Linked DNA regions of Homo sapiens. The protein of the gene in region 1 purifies or fractionates together with the protein of each later gene. This does not show direct contact. Each region holds a gene or a part of one and is shown on either strand. Other genes may lie near its edges. The genes, in order: UTP18 and MPHOSPH10.

What was found.
Region 2: the proteins of UTP18 (region 1) and MPHOSPH10 fractionate together in Homo sapiens (co-fractionation; one large-scale study listed by BioGRID). This does not show direct contact.

What each region holds. Positions count from the first base shown.
Region 1 is NC_000017.11:51,270,343-51,274,164, forward strand, and holds part of UTP18 (U3 small nucleolar RNA-associated protein 18 homolog), read left to right. Parts: intron 1-3,019; coding exon 3,020-3,108; intron 3,109-3,822. UniProt on the Homo sapiens protein: Part of the small subunit (SSU) processome, first precursor of the small eukaryotic ribosomal subunit.
Region 2 is NC_000002.12:71,140,438-71,144,259, forward strand, and holds part of MPHOSPH10 (U3 small nucleolar ribonucleoprotein protein MPP10), read left to right. Parts: intron 1-794; coding exon 795-932; intron 933-3,822. UniProt on the Homo sapiens protein: Component of the 60-80S U3 small nucleolar ribonucleoprotein (U3 snoRNP). Required for the early cleavages during pre-18S ribosomal RNA processing. Part of the small subunit (SSU) processome, first precursor of the small eukaryotic ribosomal subunit.

The DNA.
Region 1 (3,822 bases):
CATTTTTTTGGTGGCGTACTTCTAGACCCTAGATCACCAGTTTGCCCTCCTGGATGAAACATAATTTTATTATCCATTTCAGAATGCTGCATTTATAGAACCCCACAACATTTTAGATTCCTGTAATTTTGGGTATGGTTATGCTAGCTGTTGAAACAAAATCCCACAGATCCCAGTGGCATAATCCAATTGAAGTTGGTTTTTTCAGCACATAAAATTGGGGTGGTAGGAAGGTGATGGTTTACTTTAGGGACCCAAGTTTATAGAAGTTCTGTCATCTTCAGGTTGGTTCTTCCAGAGTTGCCTAAGATGTTGACATCCACTTGGCTTATAGGAGGAGAAAGAGGGGATTTTTATTGGCCTTTCCTGGAAATGGTACAGGATACTTTTGCCTACATTTTGTTGGCTGGAACTCAGTCATAAGGCCACACTAGCTGAGAGGATCCTAGGAAGTGTAGTTTGGCTTTGTGCACAGGAGAAAAAGGAAGTGGATTAAGTCAGCAATTAGTCTGCTACAGTATGGGATATGCTTGTCTAACACATTCATTTTGTACATGAGAGAGGTTCAAAGAGATAGTGACTTGTTGAAGGTATACTTATTGTTGACAGAATGGTGACTAGCACTCAGCTTCATGATTATCTCCAGTGTGTTATTTTTATCTGTAAATATTTACTGAGTTTCGTTATAAGAAAATTCTCCCTTTTGAACATAACCACAGCTCCAAAAATCAACAGCAATTCATTAATATTATGAATTGTTGTATTGTGTTGCTCTTTGTTTATCCCCTCTCCCTATCATTTTAGCTTGCTTTGTATTTTGCTTAGACTTCATAGTACTTTTGAACTGGCTTGATGTCTTCTGTAAGTTTTGGAAATTCTCACCTGTCTTCAAGTATTGTTTCTGTTCCAGTCTTCCTTTCTAGATTATTAGTAATACGTATATTAAATGTCTTCCACCTATTTTTTGGTTTGGTTTTTTTTTGAGACAGGGTCTCACTCTATCGCCCAGTCTGGAGTGCAGTGACGTGATCTTGGCTCACTGTAGTCTCGACCTCCTGGGTTCAAGCAATCCTCCCACCTCAGCCTCTGGAGTAGCTAGGACTACAGGCATGTGCCACCATGCCCAGCTAATGAAAAAAAAAATTTTTTTTTGTAGTGACAGGATCTTATTATGTTGCCCACATTGGTATTCAGTGTTTTTTATCCTTTTTCTTTCTGTACTTCAGTCTGGGTATATTTTTCTGATTCGTTTTCTAGACCACAAATTCTCTCTACAGCTAATTTTGATGTACTGTTAAAAACATCTATTGGAGGCTTAATTTAATTTTATTTGTTATTATTTTTTGAGTTAGTCTTGCTCTGTCGTGTAGGCTGGAGTGCAGTGGCACTACCTCCACTCACTGCGACCTCTGCCTCCTGAGTTCAAATGATTCTCCTGCCTCAGCCACCCAAGTAGCTGGGATTACAGGTGTGCACTACCATGCCTGGCTAATTTTTGTATTTTTAGTAGACACGGGGTTTCACCATTTTGGTCAGGCTGGTCTCGAACTCCTGACCTCAAGTGATCCACTTGCCTCGGCCTCCCAAAGTACTGGAATTACAGATATGAGCCACCATGCCTGGCCTATTGGGGGCTTACTTTTAATTACGTATTTTTCAGCTCTAGAATTTCTTTTTCAAATATTCTACATTTCTGGCTCAATTTTGAATCTTGTCTTTCATTCTTAAATATATTAAACATAGTTTTTTTTGTTGTTGTTGTTTGTGTTTTTTTGAGACAGAGTCTTATTCTGTTGCCCAGGCTGGAGTGCAGTGGCGCAATCTCAGCTCACTGCAACCTCTGCCTCCTGGGTTCAAGTGATTCTCTTGCTTCAGCCTCCCAAGTAGCTGGGATTACAGACATAAGCCATCATGCCCAGTTAATTTTTGTATTTTTAGTAGAGACGGGGTTTCTCCATGTTGGCCAGGTTGATCTCTGACTCCTGACCTCAGGTGATCCACTCACCTCGGCCTCGCAAAGTGCTGGGATTACAGATGTGAGCCACCGCGCCTGGCCTGAACATAGTATTTTTAAGGTTTGTGTCTGATAATTCCGTTGTTTAGATCCCTGTGGGGATTGTCTGTTTTTCCTTGTGGTTTTTAGTCAAGTTATCTTGTCAATATTTGCCTGGTTATATTTCATTGAGTGGTGGACATTGCATATGAAAAATAATGTAGATTAATTAGATCTAGGATGATGGTTTATATGTTTACTTCTAGGTAGGTAGCTTGGCAGAGGACACTAGTAATCCCAGAACGTTTTATTTTAATGAGGAATTGTGAAGCAGAATTTCAGTTTTGGGAAGATTTTCTTATAATTCTTTGATTTCGTCTTTAATCCTAGTGGTAGCCCTTTGTGGCCGCAATCCAAAATCTGGTGGCTTACCAGACCCTGTCAAGAAGCTTAGAGCTAGTTTTTCCCTTCTTAGCTCCGCAAGTGTTTTAAGTTTGCTCAGCTTCTTAGCTGTCTCCACTGGAATCATCAGTCATCTCCAGGGGGAAAAGCAGCCCTATTTGCTCTTTTTGAAGTTCTGATACATAGATTGCTGACATTGATCATTCAGCTAAAAGTTCTGGTTTTTATTCATGTGAGTTGTTAAACTAGATCAGTAGCCAACCTGTTGCCAATTTTGCCATAATTATGAGTTGCTCTTTTTAAATGAAATGCTGGCTTTAAACTTTTATTTCACTTCATCTTGTTTTAGTAACCATCTGTGTATGTGTTAGTCTTTCATTCTAGAGTTAAACTTTGATTTTAACTATGGATGTTAAGCTTTGTGTCATCTTTTTCTTCTCCTTTAAAATTTTTTTTTTTTTTTTCCTGTTTTGCTTTTGCCAGTTGCAGCTTTAAAAAAAGCAATTGAGGTAGGGAGGCTGGAAAGGGAGTTGATGTTGAAAATATATTCATAGAAGTTTGGGGTAGGTAAAAGGGGCAGCTCATTGATTCTAAAGATCAGCCTTCTGGGTTTGTTTGACTTAGATGAAAGTGAAGAGGATGAAGATGATTTGTTGCAAAGGACTGGGAATTTCATATCCACATCAACTTCTCTTCCAAGAGGAATCTTGAAGGTGAGAGTCAGTGAAGTTGGGGGATCCTATCTAACTACTTACCTCTGCAGTTTAATTTGCTTCCCAGTAGCAGATGTATGGATTCCTATTATCTGTGGGGTTAAATATGTTTGCTGTCATTTTGCCCTGGTAAATACTTATGTTATTGTTTTTTTTTTTTCCTTTTGCAAAAAATGTTCTAGAGGTATTATGTTCCTATTGCTTGAGCTCAGGAGTTTGAAGCTACGGTGAGCTGTGATGGAACCACTGTACTTTAGCCCGGGTGAAAGCGAGACCCTGTCTCTAAAATAATAAATAAATAAATAAATAAATAAATAAATAAATTTTCCAGTAATTCTAGGAATCCCGTTTGGTTTATCTTCATTTTCATTGGCATCAGCCTAGTTCATACTGCTGTCATCTCTTATCTGGCATATTGCAGTAGCTTTGTGACTGGACTCTTTACTTCTACTTTACCTCTTTTTAAATCATTCTTTGTATGGCAGCCAGAGGGATCTTTTAAAAATAAAACATCAGGTCATGTCACTTTTCATTGCTTTTTGAAAACTTCTGAATTCCTTATCGTATTCTACACTGCCCTTTACAGTCTGGCTTTTGCCTGGATCCTTAGCCTCATATCAGACCTGTTTCCCATGATTTCCCACTTGAGTCACACAAGCCTTTTTCTGTTTCTTGGACATGCTGCTAGGTCCTTTCTTGCCTGTGAACCTTTGC
Region 2 (3,822 bases), on another chromosome or scaffold:
GATGATAACCCATTAATCCATAAATGCAACTGCCATTCATGAGGGCAAAACCCTGGTGATCCAGTCACGTCCTAGAAGGCCCCACATCTGAGTGTTGCCACATCAGGGATTAAGTTTCCACATGAGTTTTGGAGGGGACATTCAAACCCTAGCATTGTGGTAGTTCTACAATTTTAAAACCATTTCTCAATGGTGTATTTTTTTCAAATGTTAAAAACCTAGTGGTTTTTGTTGAAGAATTGATCTGATTTTGTAAACTTAGAATAAAACTTAGATATATGGCATGTACAGTAAGAGATGGCCTTATAACATGTGTATAATGTTTGCCTACACTTGTGGGTCTAAAATAGAAAGGGTTTAAAGGGTGAGTATCATGTGCAGAACATCTTAAAATTTGAAATGAAACATGATAAACTAACTCAAGGCTTGACTTTTAAACAAACTGTGATGGGGAAATGTGGAATTAAAGTTGGTAACCAGGTAGGAAGACTCATTTAAAACAGAAAAAGATATTTGAGTAATGGTTTCTTTGCTTTCCTAATGTTTATTCTTTGTGACTTGAATAGTTATTTCAGGAGTTGAAAATTTTCTTTTTGCTATAATTTGCTTACTCTGTAATAAGTAATAATAAATATTTATTATAACAATGATATAATTTACTATTAATATATTAATGATAATTTATTAATATATTGATAATATTTATTATAATAATATTCCAGAGGAAGATTCTTAAGTGAACCTAGAAATAAATTGTAGGTTTTGTTATGTTCTACCTGCACTTTATGTTTCAGGCTTGGGATGATGTAGTACGTAAAGAAAAACCTAAAGAGGATGCATATGAATATAAAAAGCGTTTAACCTTAGACCATGAGAAGAGTAAATTGAGCCTTGCTGAAATTTATGAACAGGAGTACATCAAACTCAACCAGGTGAGGAAGCCTGTAAGGCCAAGCCATTATTATTAAAGAAATAGAAGTAGAGAACTAGGCTTTTTGTGACTGTTGAAATCGTGAAACAGAAATCTTGAGCTCTTTGGCTACCTCATGTAAGTATGAGACAGAGCATGCTAGGAATAGAAGGGTTCTAATATTCCCGCTGGATGTGAGGGGTTGAGGGGGGTTGCTTTGCAATTAGACTTTGGTCACCTGATACTTTTACAACTCATTAACTTTCTAGCAATTATGGTGGTGCTACAACTTTAAAAGCATTTCTCATTGATATTTTGAAGTAACTGATATATTTTACATGATTATGAATTCATTCTGATTTTTAGGTCTGTTTTTTCTTTCACTTAACTAAAATCTCTGGGCTGGGTATGGTGGCTCACATCTGTAATCCCAGCACTTTGGGAGGCTGAGGCGGGCGGATTGCTTGAGGTCAGGAGTTTTAGACCTGCCTGGCCAACATAGTGAAACCCCATCTCTACTAAAAATACGAAAAAATTAGACGGGCGTGGTGGCATGTGCCTGTAATCCTAGTTACTTGGGAGGCCGAGGCAGGGGAATTGCTTGAACCAGGGAAGTGGAGGTTGCAGTGAGCCCAGATCGCGCCACTGCTCTCCAGCCTGGGCGACAGAGTGAGACTCCATCTCAAAAAAAGAAAGAAAGAAAGGAAGAAATCGCTGGTTAAATAATAGGACAAGGTCCTATTCCTAGGAATATTATATGCTGATATAATAATCGAATTATTCCTTCACATTTGATTTATTGGGAATGTGGGTACTTAGGGATCAGATGGCATTTTTCTTCTGCAAAAGCCATTTACGATTCCCACCAGATTTTGTTAATGAATGCCCCTCAGTTAGCAACAGCAAATTGCCCTGATGCCACTGTGAAACTGAAGAACTGAAAAGATTTGAATTAAAATTCTTCCTGGCTGCCTTGCAATCCAAGGTGGTAGCTGAAGGAGGATGTGTACAGTTTCATTTGAATCTTTGAGGAGATTGGGTAGATACAGAAGGTATTTGATGACCACGAGAATTAAAAATTAGATAGGTAATGCAATAGCTTATGCCAGCTCTAAATGTTAGTTTCATTTCTCTCTTAGAAGTCAACAGCCAGTTCAGAAGTTTTTGAGGATGGACTTGGAGTTCTAGTAGCTAGGCTAGTTCTAGAAGTGAAATGATGGTAAACAGCACATGTAGGACCCTTTACTCACATTTGTGTATGTAATGTGGCTCAGAAAAATGCTGTGTAGCCAATATATAGCTACATATTTGATTTTACAGATATTGTTACCTAGAATGAGGTGAAAGGACATGTTTAGGATTTTTTAAAGTGTGAGGTACGTTAAAATAGTAAGCAGTAGTAGCGTGATGCCTGACTATGGCTGGAAGGTGGGTGCTGATGATGGACATTGGAAACAGACCTGAATGCATCTCTGTCATCAGGATCAGGAGGCAAAGAGCCTATCGTTTCCTAGTTCTGGTGGGTTTCTTTTTTTCATGTCTTAATAACAAACAAACAAAAAGCCCTCTTAGGCATTTAGAATAAGCATTTGGGGCCAAAGGGGACAGAGAGAGAAGCATGAAATTTTCTTTTTCTCTTCAGTAGAATTAAAATTGCTGTCAGTTTTTTCAATGTGATTTGTGAGAATAAATCTTTAACACATTACATGTAAATAAAAGAACAAAAAAGTCCCTACCATCCAAATGGGTATTTGGATAATTTTATGAAGTCTATATTAACACTTTACTTCTTTTTTTTCTTTTTTTTTTTTTTGAGACGGAGTCTTGCTCGGTTGCCAGGCTGGAGTGCAGTGGCGTGATCTAAGCTCACTGCAACGTCTGCCTCCCGGGTCCAAGCAATTCCCCTGCCTCAGCCTCCTGAGTAACAGGCACATGCCACCAAGCCCGTCTAATTTTTTGTATTTTAGTAGAGACAGGGTTTCATTATGTTAGCCAGGATGGTCTCGATCTCCTGACCTCGTGATCCTCCCGCCTCGGCCTCCCAAAGTGCTGGGATTACAAGCATGAGCCACCGCGCCCAGCCAGCCACCATGCTGGGCCATTTTTTTTCTTTTTAATTGATGTGAGATTTATATAACATAAAATGAACCACTTAGTGAACAAATTGGGAGCATTTAGGACAGTGTTATGTAACTACTAGCTCTCTCTAGTTCTAAAACATTTTTATCAGCCCACAATAAAGCCCCATACGCATTAAGCAGTTGCTACCCTTTCCTCACTTGCCCCAGCCCCAACAAACCCCAGTCTGCATTCTATCTCTGTGGATTGGCCTATTTTGAGTATTTGATATAAATGGAACCATACCATATGTGGCCTTCCATTTCTGACCTCTTTCAGTTAGTGTTGTGTTTTCAAGACTGGCATTTGTCAGTGCTTCATTTCTTTTTTATGGTTACACGGTATTCCGTTGTGTGTATTTACCACAGTTTATCTGCTTATCCACTGGTGGACATTCAGGCTGTTTCCACCTTTTGACTGTTAATAGTGCCATGTACATGTATTTGTTTGAGTATCTATTTTTAATCCTCCTGGTTGTACACCTAGGAGTGGCATTGCTGGGTCAGATGGTAATTCTCTGTGTAGCTTTTTGAAGACCTGCCAAGCTTGTTGCCACTGTGGCCGCATCATTTTACATTCCTACCTATCAACAATGCACAAGGGTTCCAGTTTCTCCATCCTTGCCAACACTTGTTATCACTTGCTATTTTCCTTTTAAAAACAACTGTAGCCATCTTAGGAATAGCTTAGTTTTTGACAGAAGTAAATACCAAGGTAATTAAATTTTTAAGTTCTGAGTATTAGAGGTAATGGTTACTGTAGCTCCTAAAATGCACATCACATCTCTGGTAGGT